Regions from separate parts of the Homo sapiens genome. Here all the other regions are linked to region 3. The links come from fine-mapping of genetic effects on gene expression. A gene starts in region 3. Each other region holds a variant in brackets. All regions are shown on one strand. Distances are from middle to middle.

Region 1 (8,160 bases), 690 kb before region 3:
TGAAATTTTCTAACTTTCCATGCGAGAGCAGTGATAGATAACCCCACTACGCAAAATGTCATGGGGCAATGGGAGACAAAAACTAAAGCTGTGTTTCAACTGCGTCTCTGAATGATACGATTATAGCACTTACACAATAACCACTTGAGAAAAAAGAACAGCCTTGCACCAAAAATCGAATGAGAAGTACAAGCACAGTGAAGTAACAGGTCACTTTACAAAAAAAAGTAAAGGCTGAAAGGGGACGAGCAAATTGCCCAAGTCTGCATGGGTGATAAGTAGCAGATCTGGGGCTCGAATCCAGATCCTGAGCTTTTAATACCTATGCAACACTTCCTCTGTTCCTTCCCTTCTGAGAACGTCATTATGTTCATTGGGGTGTATCCCCTGCTATGGTTTACAGGGGAGGGTTCACACTTTCACCATTCTGAAAGATTATTTTGAATTTAAAAAGCTGGCAAGATGTCTCTGAACAATGGAACATAGCCCAAGGCTGCAATTTTGTTGCACACATTACAGTGTTTTAAGGCCACTGGTGGCCTGTTCTTTGAGATGAAAACAATACATCAGTAGGAACAAAGTGAAAGAGAGTAAACTGGTCTCCAGGTACCCAAACAGTATGTGAAGTCAACAGAGGAACACTTCCTGTGGTCTATTAATAATTCAGAAGCCCTTTATCCTCAACCCTCCTCCACTCTCTAATTCCTAAGTCTTCTTCCTAGTGTCTCTTACTTCCTCTTTCCAAATAGTCTGGGCTGGCAGGCTGCATTTAGGTAATCACTGCACAATACAATTACTGATTCTGTTTACAAGATTCTTGCTAGTATTTTATTTTTACCCTTTATAGTGTTTGGCTTTTAAAAGCAAATGAATATGGAGTCATGATTTTTTGGCTGCCTTTCCCTTTGGCATATGATATTTATGCCTTTAAAACTTGTTGTTGTTCCAGGGCATTTCACTGATGAAATTTATCAAAATGAACCTACAAATCAGCCACTAAGAGACTGCATGAATAAAAACTGTTAGTAGGAAAATGATTATGACAAAAAAAAAAAAAAAAACAAAGAACAGCTTTAAGAAAAAGCCAGACTGTTAGTTTTTTTTTTTTTTTTTAGAAGGGTTGATATTCTGAACCCCAGCAACAATTTATCAAAGTCTGTTGCCCTGAATGAAATTAGATTTCCTTTTTAGCTTCAGGAATAGGCCATTCCTGGAAAAGTGGAGCACAGAAACATTTGGTAAAAAAATTTATTTTTACTCACAGAAAGAGTAGTTTGCAATGTTATTTCCAGTGAAGGGATGGGAACCAGGATTCAGATATTCATCTGTCTACAATACTGAGGTCCTCCTACCTCCTCTCCTCTGCAAAGGGACCCTCGCAGTATGCAAAAGTATTAAATATTTTTAATGTGATATTCTTTGGTTAAAATATAGTCACATTCTCATTCCTTTTTTCAAGCATAAGTATCAGTCAGATTTCAGAGTATAAGCTGAAGCAACAAATAGTAACAAAGCCCATGCATGAAGATATGTTCTCACTCATTTTTTTACTATTTTATTGTTGGCTACTTCTTCTATTTGCGTTATATTTAGTGTCACTAAGCTGCTATACACGTACTCATTTGAAGAGATGTGCTAAAGCTTTTAGTGTGTTTTGCTATTGATTATCCTATCCAAGAGTTTGGGTTACTCTACGATCAAGATGGCGGTCTGCAGTGAGCCCACCTGCCCGCCAACCTCTGCAACAACCAGCTGAGGATAATTGCACTGGGCTGACGCCAAGGCCATGATTAGATCTGCTAGTGGGTGAGAACCATGAGACTGAACCTCTAATCCCGAACCTCTCTTCCAAGCTACTTTCCAAACCAACTGCTGCCTGCAACTCCCTTTGACTAAATCTGACCTTCCTTCAAACTGGCTCTCTTCCTAATTTCCAGATTTTATGGAGGCAATGCTGTCCAGTGCATGGAGTTGAAATGAGGCTAAAGTGGGTTTGAATCCAAGCTCTACATTTACTGTTTGATCTTGGGCCAATTATTTATTCTTCCTGAGGCTCAGTTTCCTCCTTTGTAAAATGTCAGTAAAGATTCCTAGCATGTAGGATTTTATGCATTTAAAGAGATAACATTTCTAAGTGACTAGTTCAGTGCCTGGCACAAACACAGGCACTAAATAAGCAGAGGTTTCCTCCCTTTCCCCTAACTGTCAATGGTACTGCCACTGTGTACAGTAGCCAAGTTGGACATGTTGATACCAATTTTTCTCTTCTCCCCCTTTCCCTTAACTGAAGCCAATTATCAAGTTATGGAATATTAGAACTAGCAAGAACCTTAGAAATCCTGACCATATGATTCACCGATAAAATACAGAGAAAGACATAAGTCACTGATCATTGCAGCAATCTTGACCCCCACGTCAATTAAATAACAAAAATAATATCATTTTATGATAGAATTTGTTGCTCGACATTCGACAATCATGTTGAACAAAAGAAGATCAATCAACTATAATCAGTTCAGTGATCATGTACAAACACAGCTTCAGGCTCACAAGTCAAGATCTATTTTCCAAACCATTGTCCTATGGTTATTTATGACCGTGAACATTTTTTTGGTGGTAGAATGTTCCTTGTCACTGGTATATTCCTTTGCCCTATGTCTCTTCTTTCTTTGTCATTTACTAACATGAGGAGAGGGATCTGTCTCAAAGATAATTGGAGGAGAAAGCGATCATAGAACCAAAACAAAGGGGAAAAAATAAGATAATTCCAAAGGAAACAATATCAATGTTTTAAAGCCTAAAAATTGACTACTTAATAAATTACATTACATATACCCTGGAACTATTTTCTCCATGCATTGCATGTGCTATAGCATGAATTCATTTGTGTTCTTCTAGATAGTTTATCCTAAGGGAATCTACTAAGCAAAATAAGAATCAGATAATAGTTCTTTATCACACAACTCTTCTTCCTTTCATATTCCATGCTAAATAATCATGCATGATCCAAACCTCCTATTTAACACTTCACCCTCTTCTTCCTCCTATGTTCCATGTACAAGGGGAAAATAAATGATCCATAGTTAACTTTTTTTATGTGAAGACAGGAAGAATATGAATCATACATCAAGTTAGAGTATAAATAGTTACGTTTATAAAAGATTTAATTTCTTGAATCTCCATAGTCACTGGATATGCGTATCATCCAAGGTTCTCCCAATAATAAAACCAGAGCCAGGAAAGAAAAAAGACCCTGTCTTTAGTGATAGCCCATTGTGCTAAAGTCTACTTATTTGTCAGGGCAACTTGGAAAGTTCTGAAAGACCTGGCCTTCAAAGTTTACCATTTTGTCCACCAGCTCAGTGCACTGACTTGACACGACATGAGGCAAACAAGTGAGGAGAGTGGCCCACCACAGTCTAAGATTCTATTGGGTTACCTCTGAAACGCGAAGACATGCTGCTCACAGAAGAGAACAATGGGTACAAGGACTGCAAGGCTGCAAAGCTTCATCCCAACAGCAATTTTCTGTACAACAAATTTCTCTGAAGAGAAAAACCCAGATCATTGATTGCATAACAGCCTTCTTTACACACTGGTTAAAATATAACGGCATGTTCCCTCTTGTTCCTGTGGGTCAATCAACTTAGCTTCCATTTCCACTCCCAAAAAGAGAAATATTATTGGCTTAGTTAGGCTGTTGCTTGATAATTAAACACTCAAAAAGAGTATGATGAGAGTTGCTCTTAATTTAGACTATCTAGAAAATGTGTAACTCCTTGGGGAAGGTAGGGCCAAGAATAAAAGGGTAGTAATACAGTAGGAT[C/T]TTGTCTGGTTTATTGCAGAACAATAGCTATAGAATATTGACTAATGGATATATAGCCCATGTTGAGGGAGATCTACCGTGAAGTACTATAAATGTCTTCCCTTGCCTCTGACTTTTTCAACATTTTAAATTTATGAAGATGTAAAAAGTGAGTTCCTCAAATCTGGCTAATCCAATCCAATGTTGAAGTGCAGTTTGTAAGGATGATTACAGGATCTCTGTTCAAAAAGATGTTTCCTTGACCATATGGAATGATAGGCCCACCCCCAATAGGAATACTATTTCATGGAAGCTGGTTCAAGCAGTAAAGACATCAGGTTACTTTGAATCTCATTTATTTAAAGGTCACCATAATAGCCATCAATTAAATCCAGGCCCATCCCCTATCATCTTGAAAGTAGCATCAAATAACATTTTGTCTAGTATGAGGCCATATCCTACCCTCTGTAAGTGAGTGGAGCCCTCTTCCCCTACATTCCCATTGGTTAATGCACTTGAATGTTCTTGAAGTCAGAATTGGCAAATTTGCAAAATAAATCAGCCTGCCCACAATTAACTTCTGAGAAGAAAATGATTTTTTTTCTTTTTTCTTTTCTTTTTTTTTTTTTTTTTTTGAGACAGAGTCTCACTCTGTAGCCCAAGCTGGAGTGCAGAGGCGTGATCTTGGCTCACTGCAACCTTCACCTCTGGGGCTCAAGCAATTCTCCTGCCTCAGCCTCCCAAGTAGCTGGGACTAGAGGTGTGCCCCACCACACCCAGTTAATTTTTTTTGTATTTTTAGTAGAGACAGGGTTGCACCATGTTGCACTGGATGGTCTCAAACTCCTGAGCTCAGGAGATCCACCTGCCTCTGCCTTCCAAAGTGCTGGGAATACAGGCGTGAGCCATCGTGCCTGGCCAGAAGAAAATGATTGAGATTTCAAACTTTTCCTTTTGAGATTTAAAACTATTGAATGATATTTAATGAATTAAAGTGACCTCCACTGTAACCACTTGTTGTATAAGAAAGAAGAAGAAATAAGAAAATATGTGTGTGTCTGCTCATATGTGGAGAAAGAAACATAAGAAGGATAGATTAGAAATCAATGAGACTGGTTATCCACGGGAGGTGAGTGGAAACACACTGGAAAAGACAGGGTAGAAGAGACAGGGAGGGACGCTTCTTTGGGTGAAGTGTTTTGAATAGTTCTGAACTTTAGAACTACTCTGAATTTTAGAACCATGTTCTTTTCACATATGTACTTAAAACAAGCAAACAAATAAATTTTAAAAAATAATACAAACAAAAACGAACCTGTGTTTCAAATGAATAACATAATCACACTGAAGGAGAGAAAGAAAAACTAACCCAAGTAACTTTTACCTTATCTTTTTAACATAAAAGTTAACTTTAAAACAAACAGTCAAAATAGTTAAAATATGCTAATAAATTCTATCAATTTTTGTGCTACTTATTTTGTATCTGTGTTTCTTCTTTATTTTATGTCCTGTTTCCTCTCTGGGGAAACAGAAACAGGATACAAAAGAAACAGAGTGCATAAAAAACAATAAATTTTAAATTACATTTCTTATTGCTGAAGCAATCTTTTAAAAGTTCCTATAGCAAAAGTCTACAGGTGATAAAATCTTTTATGCTCTGTATCTTTAACAATAACTTTCTTTTGCCTTCACTTTCAAGTACTAGTTTAGCTGAATGTAATATTCGAGTGTGACGGATGCGTCATTGTTGTTTGACATTTCCTGTTGCATGGTAGGAATCTGCTGCCCAGGTAATTGTTGTTCCCTTGCAGTTTAGCTGTCCTTTCTCCTTGATAACTTTTAAGGGATTATCTTTATCCTTGGTGCTTCTCAGATCCATTACTCTGGTCTAGATGTGGATTTAGTTTTTATTATCTTACTCAATACACAGGATGTACTTTTGATCTGAGGATTTAGACATTTCTTCAGTCTTGGAAAATCATTTTATTATTTCTTCAGCTATCGTATCTCTGCTAGTGCCCTGTAGGGGCTCCTGTTGGAGCTTCTTGATCTATCTTTCATGTCTTGTAACTGTCCTTTCATGTTTTAAAAACTCATCATCTTTGTCTCTGTATGCTGTATTCTGGGTGAGTTTCTCAGCACTATCTTCAAATCCACTAATTTATTCTTTGAGTCTAATTTAGACTACATAGTCCAGTTGAGGTGTTTTAAATAATTACCTCGATGACTATATAAATCATTTACAGCTGGTTCTTTTGCGTGTTTACTGATTTTGTTTTTATACCAGTATTTTAAAATATCATTTAAGATTTTTTTCAATTTTTTAGTCGATATGATTCCTTTAGATCTCTCATTGAGAATCCTCAGGATACTTATTTTAAAGTCAGTGTTGCACTGCTTTATGAGGTTAATTATGTTTGGGTGAATTCATGTTCTGAGTATTGATTTTGTTAGCTGCCTTTATTGGTATTTGAATTCTTCTGTGATTTGGAACTCTGGTCTGCAGGCTCATTTTGAGTAGGAAGTCTTCCTTCAAGTAGGAAGTCTTTCATTTCTTTCTCTCTTCCCCTATGCTCACTTCTCTCTGCTTGGCACATGCCTCCAAGAAGTCCCTGCGCTTCCATTCCAGAGCCCTGTCTTACACTGGTTTTTGGAGCACATTTCAAAGATCCAGTCAGCAAACAGTAATGACTTGACTTAATTATTGGCTTAGTTACTCCTGGTGTAGTTATTCTGTCTCATACTGACTAGCAGCTACTTATAAACCAGTCCTAGGTAAAAGTGAGCAGCATTTTTTTCCTTTGTATTAAGGTACATGCAGTGAAATGCACAGATCGTAAGTGTACAGTTAGATTTTATATATATATATATATATATATATATAGAAGTGTTTGTTCAGATCATTTGCCTGGTTGTTAGTTGGGATAGTTTGTCTTATTACTGATTTGTAGGAGTTATTCACATTTTCTAGACATCAGTCCTTTGTCAGATATATGTATTGTAAATATATCTTCCTTTGAGAAATGTCTATCAAATTCTTTTGACCATTTTGGAAAATTTAGTTGTCGTTTTATTATTAACTTGTGAGAGTTATTTATATATTCAGGATACAACTCCTTTGTCAGACATATACATTGTCAATATTTTCTGACACTTTGTGGCTCTCCCATTTTTTATTGATGTCTTTTGCAGAGCAAAAGTTTTTAATTTTGCTGAGTTCAATTTATCAATTTTTCTTTAGTGGTTAGTGCCTTCTGGGTCTTGTCTAAGGAGCTTTGTCTAACTCAAGATCATGCAGATATTCTTGAAGCTTTATAGTTTTGACTTTTAGGTTTATGATCCATCTCAAATTAATTTTTATGTATGTTTTGAGGGAGGGATTGATGTTCTTTAATTTTCCATATAAGTATTCAATTGTTTTAGCATCATTTCCTGAAAACACTTTTCTTTCTCCCATGGGATTGCTTTGCCATCTTTGGGAAAAATCCATTGGCTCTGTACGTATGAGTCTACATCCATAAGTTTGCAGTAATTTCTTTCCTCACCACAATAATAACTAGAGTGTGTCTGTTTTATTTCTTATCTCTTTTTTCTCCTTATGCTTCAATTTGGATATTTTCTATTGATCTGGCTTCAAGTTCACTTATTCTTTTCCCAGCAGTTCCAGTTTGCTGATAAGTCCATTGAAAGAAGTCTTTATTTCTGATATATTTTTCATTTCTGACACTTCTATTTGAATTTTTTTTTAGAGTTTACTTTTCACTGCTGCATTTCCCATTTTTTCATACATGTATGAACAAAGATTGTCTTTGAGCAATCTCTGCATCTGGTTCTTTTGACCATTTTCTCTTTTGAAGATGGGTCACTTTTTATGCTTTTTCATATACTTGTAATTTTTTATTGAATCACAGATGTTATGTACAAAAGGATAGGATAGACTAAAGTAACTAGCAGATAAGCCCAGAATAGGTCCCATATCTTCTTCTCTCATGCCACCAGTGTGAAGGATTGAGCCAATCTAGGCTGCAGTTGAGCTGGGTCTAGGCTTTGCTGTTATTTTTGTTAAATTTTATTTGTTATATTATTATAGCAAGATCAAATTATTTCCTCTAGCCAGGATTGATATCTGAGTGCCTGGAGGGTTTGTCTTAGTTCTCCTGCCCTGCCTGCACCCATCGTCAGGCCCAGTGCTCCTGCGCCATAGGAGGGGTCTCAGCTCTCCTGCTCTCCTCTTCCCTACCAGTAGCCACAGGCAGCTACTGTCTCCTGTTCAGCGTAAGGCTGGGTTCATTGTGGGTTTTCTCTCTGTTTTCCTGCCCTGACCTCAAACGTCAGCAGGCTCTGAGCTTCAAAGA
Region 2 (8,190 bases), 27 kb before region 3:
CAAAGTGCTGGGATTACAGGTGTGAGCCACTGCGCCTGGCCTGGATCTGCATTTTTCTAATGATAACATCCAAAACTTTGGCTAATTCGAATACATTTATACATTTTTAAATATATAATTCATGCCTACTTGTCACAGATTTTATATGTATACTTTAAAAATACTTGAGATATGTCAGCTTGGAAATATTAAATATTCTGTTGTAAGATTTTATGACATGGTTTTATCTAAACTCATTTGCATCGTCAATATCAGTAACATCACTACAGCCATTTTTTTCTGGGGGAGGGGGCAGATAGAGTCTCAGTCCGTTGCTGGAGTGCGGTGGTGCAATCTCAGCTCACTGCAACCTCTGCCTCCCAGGTTCCAACGATTCTCCTGCCTCAGTCTCCTGAGTAGCTGGGATTAAAGGCACCTGCCACCACACCTGGCTAATTTTTGCATTTTTAGTAGAGATGGGGTTTTGCCATGTTGGCCAGGCTGGTCTCAAACTCCTGACCTCAAGTGGTCCACCCACCTCGGCCTGCCAAAGTGCTGGGATAACAGATGTGAGCCACCACGCCTGGCCTACAGCCACTTTTTGCAGCAACTTTTCACATCACCTTCACTTCTAAGTGGTTTGAGATACAATATTACTTGAATTGATAAACGATGTAGCCACTGGAAATTGTATCCCCCAAGATAAGTATTCTTTGCAATAACATCAGGATTTTTAAATTCTTCATGCAGTAGTATATTTATGATCTTCACAGCATAACTACTTAATATACTTTTAATGTAAACCTTATTAAAGTATAACACATATTAAAAAGTTTATAAATCCTAAGTGTATGGCCTGATGAATTTTCAGTGAACATGCTCATGTACCAAGCACCTGGATGAAGATAGCATCACCAGTACTCTCTCCTGCCATGCTCCAATCACCTCTCCCTCAGAATGCCCCCCACCACCCCCTTCCATTGCCTTGCTATGTGTAACACCTCCTGTCTTCAATACTATGCATATAAAATGGTACCAAGTTATTATATAGCACATAATTTGGTGTCAGGATTCTTTCTTCCAGATTATGATTGAGACCCCATCCATGTTGCTGCATCCAGTTATAGTGTGTTTATTTTTATTCATGTAGAATATTTCATTGTATGAATATGCTCCAATTTTACTAATTCTGTTATAGATGGATTCAGGTTATTTCTAGATTTTGGCCATTGTAAATGGTGCTGCTGTAAACATTCTCATGTAGCCATAATGTTCCTGTTAAGTACAGAAACATGCATTGAAAGGCTATAGGAGACGTGCTAAGTAAGGTCTGAGGCCTCATCAGACCTTACCAGTTTGCTAAGGTTGAACTAGACCTTAGCAGATCCTGCCAGATTGCACCTTATTAGCAGTATAATTCAGGTCGCCATGTTTCCTTGTCAACACCTGGGATTTTCCATTGTCTGAACTTTAGCCATTCAGGTGGGTGTGTAGGTTCATTGCATTGTAGTTTTTATTCGTATTTCCCCAGTCTTACTAAGCACATTTTCAGGCATTCATTAGCCATATTTGTCCTATTTTGTTAAGTACAAATTTTTTGCCAAATTTTATGTTTTTAAGAATTTGTGAGAGTTCTTCAGGCATTCTAGATACAAGTTATTTGTCAGATATATGTGTTGCAAGCATCTCCATCTACTTTGTGGCTTGTCCTTTTACTCTTCATGGTGGTGGCTTTACAGTATTACGTTTCTTCAAGAACATAATCTTCACAAGGGTCTTACATTGAACATAATCCAGGAAATGTCAGATTCCTTTACCTCCTTTTATACCTGATTGTCAGGTGACTTCTAGAAACACCCTAAACAAGCATTGGGAGTTAATGTTTAGGTTATGTATTGTTAACTATGTCACTGAGATGGAACCTTACAATATGAGAGACATTAAGATTGAACTCTTTCTAGTTGGGGAAACTCATGTTACATTTAGGCATTGATAAGGACTCATCCCTCCCCAGGCCAGCATTTGTGGCACAAAAAAGCAAGCTCAAATGTATTGGTTTATTATCCTCAACAGTCATTTCTGTTTTAACTAAAGGTCTTTGTCTTTACTAACATTAGCTGTTCATCAGCAATTACTTAATGAATATTTAAATGTTTTGCATTTACGTGTAAAAAAGCAAAGCAACTATTTTCTAACAATGATACACTAACTAACTTAGCTGTTTGTTACAGTCCCCTGTTATTCAAATACTAATCTAGGTGTTGCTATGAAGGAATTTTGCAGATAAAGTCCCTAATCAACTGACTTTAAAGAGGAGAGACAATCCAGTGGACCTCACTTAATCAGAAGGCCTTAAAAGCAAGACTGAGGCCTCACCAGGAGAGAAGAAATTCCTCCTGTGTACAACAGCTTGAGCCCATGCCCAGAGTCCGTCCTGCTTGTGCCTGTCCCTTCCTGACTGCTGCTCTATGGATTTTGGACTTGCTTAGCCAGCCCTCATAATCAGGTATGCCAATTCCTTGTTTTTTTTTTTTTTTTTATATATATATATTTATTATACTTTTAAGTTCTAGGGTACATGTGCACAACGCGCAGGTTTGTTACATATGTATACATGTACCATGTTGGTGTGCTGCACCCATTAACTCGTCATTTAGCATTAGGTATGTCTCCTAATGCTATCCCTCCCCCCTCCCCCCTCCCCCCACCCCACAACAGGCCTCAGTGTGTGATGTTCCCCTTCCTGTGTCCAAGTGTTCCCATTGTTCAATTCCCACCTGTGAGTGAGAACATGCGGTGTTTGGTTTTTTGTCCTTGAGATAGTTTGCCGAGAATGACGGTTTCCAGCTTCATCCATGTCCCTACAAAGGACATGAACTCATCCTTTTTTATGACTGCATAGTATTCCATAGTGTATATGTGCCACATTTTCTTAATCCAGGTATGCCAATTCCTCGTTTTTTAAAAAAAATCTTAATGTATATATCTCCTACTAGTTTTGCTTCCCTGGTTTAAACCTCAACCTCAATGATCTTAGGGACAATTGTTTTTCTTCACAAATAAATTACCAGCATGTAAAACGTTCATGAATGATCTTATTAGAAGACACAAGACTGTTTAAATGAGAACCATTCTGTGTACAGCTCATTCAAGGGCTCAACCTTGACTACTGATGTTTAAATAATACTAATTTTATAACTTTAGGAACTTAATGTCATTTTCTTCAGTTACCATAATATGCATTCCTACTGAATGTTTAAAATTTATTTTTTAACAGAAAAAAATATATTTTTAAAGCAGCCAGGTTTTACTGGCTTCTATCATGTTTTACTGGCTTTTATCACATTTCAAAAAGTTTGTCTATTAAAAGTTCTTAAAGGAAAACAATTGGGTATTTACAGAGATATTACTTTTCTTGGTGAGCTCACCAAGTTAAATCTCTGCTTGCAACTATGGGAAAATATTCATGTTTACAGTAACATATGAAACTAATACGTTTCCTTATTTAGCCATTTTCAGATTGAATCTTATTTAATTCTTGAGAACCTTAATACACCCAAAAACCAATGTTCACAAATATATTAGACTCAATAGGTAAGAAAAGAAAATCTGTCTTCTAATATCCCACAAATAGCTGTGTAACGATGGGGAATTCATTTAACCTTTCTGAGCCTACCTCTTTATTCTGTAGCTAACAGTTATTAAATATCCACTAGAAATCAAGTGGATATTTGCTTTCTAGACACTTGCTAGACACTAGAGATACAACAATGAACATGACAAAGACAGTCCAATGTCTTCAGAGGCTTAAAGTCTGGAAAGGTGAGGAGTCTGGGCTAAATTACTTTTAAGTCTTCTGTTCCAGAGTTGCTACTCTATACTTCAAATAGGATTACATTCATATTCTATGACCTGGGATTAATACAAGAATTTCCAAACGACACTGAAAAA[G/A]CTATAGAGCATTAAAGATTTCCTATGTGAACACTTGTAAAATAACTTTTAAAATCAGAAGTAGGTTTTATATCTTTATTCAGAGGTGATTCAACTATAGAATAAAGCCCTTTTAGCACTATAAAATCCAATGTTTTGAATTTTTTTTTTTTTTGCTCAGCAATACAGTTGCATTTTACAACTTTTATAATCCTGAAGAGATTCTCTTATTTGGAGTTTTTTCATGCATTCAGGTATTTAGCATGATGTCTGATGTGGTCAGTAATAAAGGTTGCAATGAAGTAGTAGCTATGATCATAACCCTAGAAGATAAAGAGATGATAAGACATTTATCTACCATTCAGGAACATCAGTATTAGGAACATTAAATATATCTCTAAGGTCGTTTAATTTGCTTACAAATAGTCATAACATTAAGGAAGTATGAGGAAGGTTTATAATAAAATCAAGGTTGTCATCCTTGTACTTTAACATTTTCACTGTACATTAAAAGAGCAGCAAAAATGTGAAGGAAAACTAAACATTCTGCCTAGCTTCTAAACATAGCCTAACTTCTAAATGCTGCCATTAATATGTAAAGAGTGGAAGTAACACATTAATTAAATATGCAGAGTAGACATGTCATATCAACACTGTAGAGTGCATTAAATATGCAGAGTAGACACTGTCATTGAAAATGACACTATCAATTGACAGTGTCAGTTGATATGACACTGTCATATCAACCAAGATGAAAAGAATCAGGATTTAGAGATCTTAGAAACATGGGCAAGACATTTCAATTCACAAATGCAGCACATCAGTAAGACAGTGACTATTAAAACACAAAATAAGCACACAAACAATATAGAAAAAGAACATAAAAATGCCCAAATGTTCTATCATTGTTGGGAAGTCAAACACAGCCATCATAAATCCTGTTAACAATTCCTCCTACACAGTAAAAGCATGTTGTATCTTTATGTGAGGGGAAATATGTCATTAAGGCCTGACATCCCTTAGCAAATTAGGTAAAAAGTCAGTAATCCTTTGGAAAACTAACATGAAACAGAGAAAAATGCAATGTGCTAAGCAGTTAAGTTGAAAGAGATTTCTATCTATCCAGTCATTTAAAACCATTGTTGTAGGTAAATGGAGAAATAATCCCTTTCTGCTGACTCTGACACTTCTTCTGAATATAAAAAATAGTCTTCCAAAAAAAAAATAATTACAATAAGGTATTAACGCATTTTCCTTCTTTTTTTGTTGTTCAACTTTTAAGTTCAGGAGTACATGTGCTGGATATGCAGTTACATAAGTAAACGTGTGCCATGGTGGTTTGCTGCTCAGATCAAGCCATCACCTAGGTATTAAGCCGAGCATCCATCAGCTGTTCTTCCTGATGCTTTCCCCAACTCCCATCGCCCTTTGGCAGGCCCCAGTGTGGGTTGTTCCCCTCCATATATCCATGTGTTCTCACCATTCAGCTCCTGCTTATAAGTGAGAGCATGTGGTGTTTGGTCTTTTTTTTTTTTGAGACGGAGTCTCACTCTGTCACCCATGCTGGAGTGCATGATCTTGGCTCACTGCAACCTCCACATCCCGGGTTCAAGCGATTCTCCTGCCTCAGCCTCCCGACTAGCTGGGACTACAGGTGCATGCCACCATGCCCAGCTAATTTTTTGTATTTTTAGTAGAGACGGGGTTTCGCCATGTTAGCCAGGATGGTCTCGATCTCCTGACCTTGTGATCCGTCCACCTTAGCCTCCCAAAGTGCTGGGATTACAGGCGTGAGCCACTGCGCCTGGCCTGGTGTTTGGTTTTCTATTCCTGCATTAGTTTGTTGAGGATAATGGCTTCCAACTCCATCCATGTCCCTGCAAAGGACATGATCTCATTCCTTTTTATGGCTGTACAGTATTCCATGGTGCATATGTACCACATTTTCTTTATTTAGTCTATCACCGATGGGTACTTGGGTTGATTCCATGTCTTTGCTATTGAATAGTATTGAATAGTACTGTAGTGAACATATGTGTGCTTGTATCTTTATAACAGAATGATTTATATTCCTTTGGGTATACACCTAGTAATAGGATTGCTGGGTCAAATGGCATTTCTGCCTCTAGGTCTGCGGAATCACCACACTATCTTCTACAATGGTTAAACTAATTTACACTCCAGGTGGGAAGAACTTTCTAAGGGTATCAAACACCAGATAATTTATCCCTATCTACAATTAAAATACAAGGTTGAATAAACCGAAAGAAATGAAAGTCTAACAAAGATTTTGTTTTTCCCATTTTGAACTAGTGAATGGTCACTGATGGGAAAAGATGGGAATTTTTCTAAGCACCTAAGAAATAAAAATAGAGCTAATAAAAATATCACTGACGCTTCAGAGAACAAGGAAATCCCCAAGGTTTTGATGAATCAGTAAATGTTCTCAATCTCTCCCTTCCAGAGAGGTATTAAATGTTTATCTTGGGAACAGCTGTTAATAAAAAGTTCTAGTTTAAGGTCAAGGTAACTTAAGTCTTCTAAAGCAATCTGTCTTCTATCATGGAAGTGAATGTGACAGGAATGTTGTCAAGATTAAAGCTGAGCCTCGGAATTACTTGGTGTCATGTCTCTCAATGATTAGACTAGTCCCAGCTGGCTAGTTGAATTTAGAGCTAAATTACAGTTTCCTATATAAAGAAAGAAATGTAAAGAAAAACATTTTCCATCCATATAATTCTTGAATTGTTAAGAAGTTAAACAGGCCTGGAGTTTTAGGCCACCAAACCTGTAAAATGTACCAAGTATTATCTGCCATTTTTCACAGATCAAAAGATGGATCTGATAGAAAATGGGTACAGATGCAGGGAAACAGATATCTCAAAAGACTTGTGTGACCAAGTTCCAATGTGACTGAGTATGCCATATTTTTATCCTTAGTTTCTTGTGTGTTAAGAGCCATCAGACACATATGAATAGCCATCATTATTATTAGAGAAGTCCCAAGGTAAACCCAGGAATATATTGCAAGACAAGACATCTAAAATCCAAAACAAATGACCATAAGTTCCATAATGATAAAGATTCACCTATATGAGAAAGAAGAAAATGCCTGCCATTGAGGGCCCAAGAATTTTAAAAAATGTCAACAAAAAGGCAATAGAATACATTTGAACAATTGGTATCCTGCTGAAGTTACACAATTCGAGCTAATTGTATCATCCCTGACGAGGGTTTCTATTTATCAGTCTTATTAAATGGGGATGGCTTCTTTAATTAAATTCTTTGATGAATGAGTTGGTATGATATGTTAAGCAGCTTGTGCAAATGCCTATGTTTAGTGACACTTGAAGGGGACTTTTCTCCTCTACCTCACACTTTAAATGGAAAATCCTTGGTAGCAAAACTCTTGACTCCTGGAGTATAAAAATAAATGAACACCTTTCATTCTTTCATTCTTCACTCAGCTCTCAAAAAGGGAGCAGTGCTCCAGCAGCTATGATGGATGTTTATCCTAACAGGCAGTGTTTTCTTATATATTTTCCAGACCCAATTAGAAAAGCTTGGATAAGAATCCCCAGGTTATTAAATCTCTTCAGTGTATAAGGAGGAAGACTTTGCACTGTATTCATTTAACAAGTATTGAGAGTCTCTGTGCTAGATACCTATGCTAAATAAGCATGGGATACAGAGATGAATGAGAGAGCTCTACATTTCTGGGATTCTCTGCCATGTTCTTACTCTTCTCTAGCAGGCAGATGCAGAGGCTAAAACAGCCTCTCAATCTTCAAAAAGGTCCTGAGACTTAAGGAGGTAGTATAGCCTCTCCTTCTATTCCACAAAAAGAGATTACTATTTCTGGAAACTTCTTCACAGTATTAGGTCACTAAATTTTTTTTTCTCACTGTGTAACTCCAATAACTAAAGATAAGACATACTAGGCCCTTCTTTTTCAGACTAAGATTTGATCTCTGTACACTAGATATCAGAATTCTGCTACCTAGTATTTTTTTTTCAATTTAGATTCCCTGAAGCCAAAATAGAAAAAGAAAAAATTATATAAAATAATAACCAAATAAATATCCCCGATGCACTAACCCCTCTCTCTAAAAAATTTTTTTTGACATTCGACAGAGTATAAATATAAATTGTGAGCATTTAACACCATTAAAAAGAGGTAAAAGAATGAAGTTGAGTAAATCATGTGCATGATTGTAATTATTTTCTTTATTCTTTCTCAGATCGTTTATTTATATATATCCCCTATTATTTTCAGCTTAT
Region 3 (8,190 bases):
TATATGGAAACTTACATAGTATATATCATGTCACTTATCTGGTAGATTTCATTTAGGCTCTAGAACAAATATATATTTAGGTTCTAGAACAGATTTTGTGGGAGAAATAGGGTGACAGAGTAGGGTGGAATACCAAAAAACCAAACAACACCCTTCCTCCTTCCCCTCCAAAAAACAACAACAACAACAACAACAACAAAAACAGAAAAACAATTTCACAGTGCCAGTGGGAGTTACACAATTTTTCCCAAATGTTAGTGAACATCAACATTCTTTGGAGAAGAAAGGGTCTCTCAGTGCATAATACATCCATTCCCCTAAAGGTCAAACCTTACTGTTCTTCCCTTTATTTTTTATTTTTTGGAGATGGGGTCTTGGCTGTGTGGCCCAGGTTGTAGTACAGTTGCATAATCATGACTCAGTGTAACCTAGAACTCCAAGCTTCAAGTGTTCTCCTACCTCAGCCTCCTGAGCAGCTAGGACTACAGGTGCGTACCACACTGGAATATTTTTTTTTTTAATTTTTTGTAGAGACAGGGCCCTTTACTTATTAAAGTTAAATGTCATCCACCTCCAGAAATCTGAGTTCTATTTTTATCCTTCTTCCCCTGTGTCTCAAGTTTTCCATAAATCTCTACATGTGTTTTTTTGTTCCCATTCTCTCAGATTCCTTGGATTTTGATGTTTCTTCATTTCCAGGATGTCCTATTCCACTGGCTCTTAACAACCTAGACAGGTGTTCCCAAAACCAACAATCTACAGTTCCAATAACTGCTGTTGACCACCACTGTGTTGTTCAAATCCTCTTCTCAGTGAAAACTCAGGATCTGGCTTCTTCCCTTTCACTCTGTCTCCTCCCACCTCCCTTTTCTTTTTTCTTCACACTCTTTCCCTAAACCTCATTCCCTAAATTTCAACTACATTTTCTGGGTGAAATAATCTAAATCTGCATCTCTATAACCAATCTTTCTCAAGCATTAGTACCCATAATGACATTTCTTGCTGGACTCTTCTACCAAGACATGTCACCAGCTATTAAAACTTACCACACCTAAAATTAAGCTTCTGCATCTCACCTTCAAACCATTCCTCTTTTCATTGCCTCTCTTTTTCAGACTCATGCCTGTCTTGCCTAATCTACATTTGAGATGCCTCAAAGTTACCTTCTTTTTGAATTCCCACTGCCATCATCCTAATTATATATAAGAAATTAAAACTTAGCCTCTTCCTTTCTTCCTAATACATCCCACTACGATCAATCCTGCATGAAAGCCTAGGGTTTTAATCCACTTAATTTACTGGTCAACGGATCCCTACCAACAGCTCATCTGCAGCCTAATACGGCCTACGTGGAATTGTTAGTCATTTTTATTTAGTATTTTAAAAACTGTGATAAAAACACATACATAATATTTACTATCTTAACCATTCCTAAGTGTGTATTTCAGTAGTGTTAAGTATCCATTAGTCATATGTAAAAACGCAGTTCGCCAGCTCACAATAATGAGCAGATGAGAACTGCCTCATCACCCCCTGGCTGCTGCAGGTGGAGACTACTAATCCCTTTCGCTGTTAGGCCAGTCGCTGAGAACCAGAAAGTCACTGAAATGGAAGACCATGTTAATTGTACAATTTTCTTCAAGTTTAATGCCATTAAAATTTCATAAAATTAAAACCATGCAGGATCACTGAAAAAATAGATGAATAAAACTCCATATAAACTTCAGTCACACTCTACCTGTGTGCAAACACAGTCTTTTTTTTCTTCTTTTTTTTTTTTTTGAGACAGGGTCAAACTCTGTGGCCCAGATTGGAGTGCAGTGGCCTGATCTCGGCTCACTGCAATCATCTCGGCCCCCGGGCTCAGGTGATCCTCCCGCCTCAGCCTCTGGAGTAGTTGGGACCACAGGTGGCACCACCATGCCCAGGTAATTTTTTGTAGAGGAGGTTTTGCCATGCTGCCTAGGCTGGGTCTCTTTTCCTTCATAAAAATTCACATGGCTTGCCTAGGTAAGGATTTCTATTAAACTCTGGGGAAAATTTTTTAAAAAAAATATAGCATCTATAAACGCCAAACACCTTCACATGGCTCTAAATATGGTCTATAATTTGGTCCCAGATTATTTTTCTGGTCTCACTCCCTATTTTGTTAGTTAAACTCAACTATGCATAATTCTAGGATGGCCTGGATGTTGCTATCGGGTGGCTTTACTCAATGCCACGGTACAATGGTTTCAGAGCAGGTTTTGGGGCCAGACCCTCCGGGTTCAAACCCTGACTTCACCACTTATTACTACATGACACTGGGCAAGCTAATCTATGCCTCATTTGCCCATCTGCAAAATGGGTATACAGTAATATATATCAATTTGATAGGGTTGCTCTGGGAATTAAATGAGTTAATTCACGTAGTGCTTAAAATGCTGCTTCTACCACACACACAAACATGAGCTATTATTTTTCCTGCAACCTGAATGCCCTCTCCTTCCAGGTGCGCTCAATCCCATTTCCCTAATGACCCCATCAGAAATGACTTCCAGTCCCCCACAGCGCTCTGAGAGCATTTTACGACCCGAACAGATTTTGTCAAACTCCAAAGACACGTGCTCCCCTCGGCACCATCAGGTGAGTGCTCCTGACCGCGCCATTGGCTCGTGCCCCGACGCGGACGCTGCCTAGAGCAGCAGGTCCACACTCCCCCGAACCAGGCGCCGGCGGCCGCTAGTAACGCGTTGAGGCCAGCTCCCTCCTTAAAATGCGTACACATCTACTTCACATTTTCGCGCGGTGGCTGCGGGTCTAGGAAAGTCTTTCTGAACAGGAAAAAGCTGTACAAATGTAGCGGGCAGTAGGTAAACGGGCGCTCGCCCCGGGTTACACTAGGTTGGAGGCTCAGAGAAGGAAAAGGGATTAGAGGCGAGGCTCCGGGTCACGGGAAAAGGTCCTTGGCCTCCTGTCATGGATGGTGGCGCCCAAGGCCCAGGGTCGCCGTCTCTGCGCTCGTGCCTGCGGATACCTGCACCGCAGGACTCGGCGTCCGCCCCGATCACGCCTAGCCGTGCCGCAGCCGCAGGAAGGCTGACAACGTCCAGGCCTCTACCCGAACCCAGTCTTACCTACGGTGGCGGAGTGACCAGAAGAAGCGGGCCGAAGTAAAAGGCGGGGCTCAAGATGGCCGCCGGGGCCTCGCCTCAGCCCCGCCCATATGATGCCCCGCCCCTCCGGTCCCACTCACTCTCGCTTTTAACTCCGAGAACCCGCTCTTCTCCAGTTCAGTCTCCATGGCCCCGCCGCCTTTGCACATTGCACTTCCCGGCAGCCTCCGCGTGGGCGCCCCCTCCAACTCCTGCCTTCGCCCGCGTTTCTGCTCTGTGTGGTTACTAGGACCAACGAGGAGGGCGTTAGGTTAGTCCCTGTCACCTTGTCGGGGATCAGTCTGCTGTGCGTGCTCAGACTCTTCCCAGAGCCAGCAGCAAGAACCCGAGGCATTAATAAACTTGAGATGTAGCTTCGCTTAACTCGTGCAGAGGGTTTCCGTGTCACTTATGTAGAAACTAGGGCCTAATTTCAACTCCCTCAACTCCTCTGTCCCAAGACTATCCACGTCACCTACTTGGTAGCTTGAGTTAAACAAGAAACCTTTGAAATCTCCAGTGGCCGACACGCAGTGGGAACTCCATCAGTTTTCTGTTTTCTCCCTTCTTCCCTCAATAAAAATTAAGTTGAACTGACTAAGATTTGCTAGTTGATAATTTACAGCAAATCTTTCCTTTTGGTCTCTCTGATTTAAGCAAACTGTTGAGTGTACTTTGCCTCTTGAGAAATTAAATCTGATTACAACAGAGCTAAGTATTTTTCAGCAACGGTTAGACTGACATTGTAAATACACAATCTGATAGTTGGGGCTGGCCTCATGGGCCTGCAACCTGTGCTATTACCCGGCCCCCAGAACAGAAGGACGCTACATTTTCTCTCAGTAAGTGTTGAACCAGGGCCCCACGTTTGTGTCTGGAATTGGGCCCTGCAAATTGTGTAGCTATGGGAGCTGACTTAAGTATGGATGAGCTGCCACACAAGAGATTACCTGCCAGAATCTATTGTGTGGCTCAGGCCCATTTTGCCATAGTGATCTTTGGACTAAATTAACCTGTGGACTGAACCTGTGGATCAATTGGAACTTAGACTGAAAATAATGTTTCATCAAAATAATGTTTTTATTTTGAGAAAGCATTGAAGTAAATTGTTTTAAACTTTCTTTTTACTATCTTTAAGTATAAATCATTGAAAAGGGGATTTTCTTCAGTTTCAAAACTGAAACAGAATAAATACCTAAATTGCAAGTTCTTTATAACTGATGTTTGAACAAAGAGAAATAATTGATTAAATGATATATTTGCCTAATAAGTGGACTGCTGTGAGGTGCAGACTAGCCAAAGAACTGTAAGTGTGAAGTTCTTTACTAAAGGGTTCTTGTGTGAATACAATGTGAGAATAAGCAGAACTAAAATTTCTTTTACCCAGCATAAATAAAATGTTAATAGATCCACAAAAGTCGATTGCTTAAAAATATTAAGAATATATATAATTATCATTATTATTTGGACATGGAAGCAAAGAAGGCTGAAATCAGAAATTAAGGTTGACATTTTAAAAAATGGCACTACCAATAAAAATGGATGAATATTAAGTACACAAAGAAATAGTCCAAAAATTATGTGTAAATGTGTGGCTGAGAGGATATAGGACTCTTGGTTTGAACTAAAATGAGTAGGAATATAATCTTAAGGAGGCAATAAAGGGATGCAATAAAAATGAGAAAAAGTCAAATATACTTGAAGCCTGTAAGAAAAGAGATTGTTTTAGTCAGTTCCAGCTTAACAGAAATTTATTCCTCACCATTCTAAAAGTCTGGGAAGTCCAAGATCAAGGTGCTGATGAAATCTGTTCCTGCTGAGAGCCCTTTTCCTCGTTTGCAGAGGAATACCTTCTTGCTGTAGTCTCACTTGGTGGGTGGGGTGAGGAGAGCTCTGGTTCCTTCATCTTATTGTAAGGGCACTAGTCCCATTCACATGGACTCCACCATCATGGTGTAATTATCTTCCAAAGTCTCCATCTCCAAATACCATCACGTTAAGGATTTAGGGTTCAATGTTTGAATTCTGGGGAACACAAACATTCAATCCATAGCAAAGATAGTTTTAGAGAGACTAGAAAAGACACCATACATAGAAAATAATATAATCTCTTGGGTATCAAATATGCTACTTGAGAAGTGTCCTTGTGGCTTTTCCACAGACTAGAACAGGGTTTCTCAACCTCGGCACTGTTGACATTTGGGGCCAGATGATTCTTTGTCGTGGAGGCCTACCCTGTGCATTGTAGGATGTTTCGTAACATCCCTGGCCTCCACTAGCTAGATGCCAGTGGTACCCCTAACAAGCTTAGATACCCAAAACGTCTCTAGACATTGCCAAATGTCCATGGAAGGAGGGGTTGGTGTAGAGGAGGGCTGCAAAATTGCCCCTAGTTAAGAACCACTGGCCTAGATAAACATTTTTCAAAATTCCCTTTATTTTGATTCTATTCTTATCTAGTGACATTTTGGAAAATAATAGGCTCCATTGTTATTTAATAAATCAGAACTTAGGTTAAAAATGCTTTAGTCTCTGGTGAGTGTAGCTGAGATGATACATTTTCCCAAAGACTTACCATCTCTGAGCATGATACTCACCTTACAGAATTGAGTTTCTGAATGTGTACTCTGAGGACCAGACTTTGGATCATGGGAACTGAACCAAGTACCGGAAACTTATAGCCCTGTGCCACTGTTCCATCTTGACTTTGTTATCTTAAGTTCTAACTGCAGAGTACAATACAACAAGTACAGACAAGCCTTTCAGTCTCACATTCATATTAGCAAATGTCCAAATTTCACATATTTCAATTTTATTTATTTATTTATTTAAGATAGGGTCTTACTCTGTCACCCAGGCTGGAGTGCAATGGCGCAATCATAGTTCATTACAACCTCAAACTCCTGGGCTCAAGTGATCCTACTGCCTCAGCCTCCTGAGTAGCTGGCACTACAGGCGTGTGCTAGCATGCCCAGCTAATTTTTGTATTTTTAGTAGAAATGGGATCTTGCTATGTTGCCCAGGCTGGTCTTGAACTCTTGAGCTCAAGTGATCCTCCCACTTCAGCCTCCCAAAGTGCTGGGATTATAGGCATGAGCCGTTGCACCCAGCTGCATCTGGCCTCAATTCCATTTACTTTTTTTTTTTAATTCTTAAATCCTAAAAGCTATATTTCTTTTTCATCACACATTCAAAAAAATCAAGAGTTAGTGTGTGATTGTACAGAGCTAGACTTTTGTGTTAGCCATTATTGTTATTTTTGTTAGCATGAGAACTAAAACTATAGATTTTTTCCTGTTCAAAGTGACTCCTATTCTTTTATCACCTTTTGCTCAATTACAGTACTGTTAAGTTTCTTAACATTCTACATATTTGTTGAGCCACAGTTTGTCAGTTTATTCATAATTTTTAAAGTTCCATTGATAGCTTATTAGAAACAAAATGAACTCTGGCTATCTGTTAATCATTGGCATGTATGAAAACTGACAAAAGGCCAGTTCACTAACTGTTTTGGTTAATGCTTATAAATCTCCTTTGGTGTAAGATTAGTATTTTGCTAGTGAGACTACCTATGCTTTCATGATCCTTTTCTCAATAATGCCAACTATTTCTTTAGGTCATTTCTAAAATGCCTCCTAGTCACTTACACATTCCCCAGCATAGCTTAAACATGCTTCTATAATTATTTGTAAACATGGAGAGTGAAGTAAAATAAACTATTTCATAGACAATGAGGCAACTAAAAAATTCTGAGATTACCATTATAACCATGGCTGGGATTTTGCTAAAGGAAACTAAGAATTTAGAAGAAAATTGGGGTTTTATGTATCCTCCAAAAGTCAGTAGCTCTAGATATTATATCATTATCTTTTTAGGCTGAGAACTAGGACAGCTTCCTTGGTTATGAAGAATCAGCTGTTAGGTAGAAATCCCCGCAGATATGCCATCTTGGCCTTATTGCAAGGACCATTATATCCACAAGTCACCCCAAATTTCCCTTTCTGTTTGCCTCCCTATATGAAAACAATTTAGAAATTCCATTTTCTTTTTCCCATGTCCTCCCTCCAGCTCTCTCTCTCAATAGACAGATAAATGGATCTATCTATCTATCTATCTATCTATCTATCTATCTATCTATCTATCTACAGTCATGAGTTGCTTTATGACAGGGATGTGTTCTGAGAAATGCATTGATAGCTGATTCTGTCACTATGGGAATATCACAGGGTATACTTACACAAACCTAGATGGTATAGCCTTCTACCCACCTAGGCTACATGGTATAGTCTGTTGCTCCTAGGCTATAAACCTGTACAGCATGTTACTGTACTAAATACTCTTGGCAACTGTTACACAATGGTGTTTGTGTATCTAAACACAGCTAAATACAGAAAAGGTAGAGTAAACATGCAGTATTACAATCTTATGGGACCACTGTAGTGTATATAATAAGTTATTGACCAAAACATTGTAATGCAGCCCATGGCTGCATCTGTACACACACATGCTCAAAATATTACTGTTAAGAAACACTTGCTATGTGCCAGGCACTATGAATGAAGATGACATTATTACCAAGTTATCCCTCCAGGTTCATGAGCTACAGCTCCCTCATAATTCCATCCTATGCTGAAGCTGTATCAAGCTACTTCCCTCCTAATTATAATCTAAACACCCCATGCTCTTATACCATCATGATTTTGCACATGCTGTTCCTTTTGCCTATCCCACAACACACTTCTCACCATGCACAATTTACCTTACAAACTTACATGTTTTTCAGTTCCCAGCTCAAATGCACATTCCCCAAGGAAACTTTTTGAACTGCTTAGATAAAGCTAAGCACTCTTCAGTGCACCTTTAGCCCTTGTACAGCCACACCTCTATTGTGGCACCTAACATTGCATTGCAATTTTGAATATAAGTAAGTTTCTGAAAGGCAGGAGCTGAGTCATATCCTAGCTCTAATACTTGCAAATCGTAGGCACACAAGTGGCTTTAGAATTCATGAAAGGTTACTATGGTCTGGGTATTTGTGTCTCTCCAAAATTCATAT

The links.
Region 1: its variant is fine-mapped to the expression of ESD in amygdala (GTEx, PIP 0.96).
Region 2: its variant is fine-mapped to the expression of ESD in whole blood (TOPMed, PIP above 0.99).

What each region holds. Positions count from the first base shown.
Region 1 is chr13:46,101,497-46,109,656 of GRCh38, forward strand. It overlaps CPB2 (carboxypeptidase B2), which reads right to left and starts at 3,537. Exons shown (of 11, transcript NM_001872.5): 1 at 3,440-3,537. The coding sequence starts at 3,513. The variant C/T (reference allele first, on the strand shown) is at 3,827.
Region 2 is chr13:46,767,265-46,775,454 of GRCh38, forward strand. ESD (esterase D) reads right to left here. Exons shown (of 10, transcript NM_001984.2): 10 at 3,992-4,232. The coding sequence ends at 4,152. Among named protein-coding and RNA genes, the nearest start is that of ESD, 26 kb to the right of the region's middle. The variant G/A (reference allele first, on the strand shown) is at 3,931.
Region 3 is chr13:46,793,989-46,802,178 of GRCh38, forward strand. ESD (esterase D) reads right to left here and starts at 3,173. Exons shown (of 10, transcript NM_001984.2): 1 at 3,117-3,173. RefSeq lists enhancers at 2,308-2,909, 3,041-3,090 and a silencer at 2,681-2,730.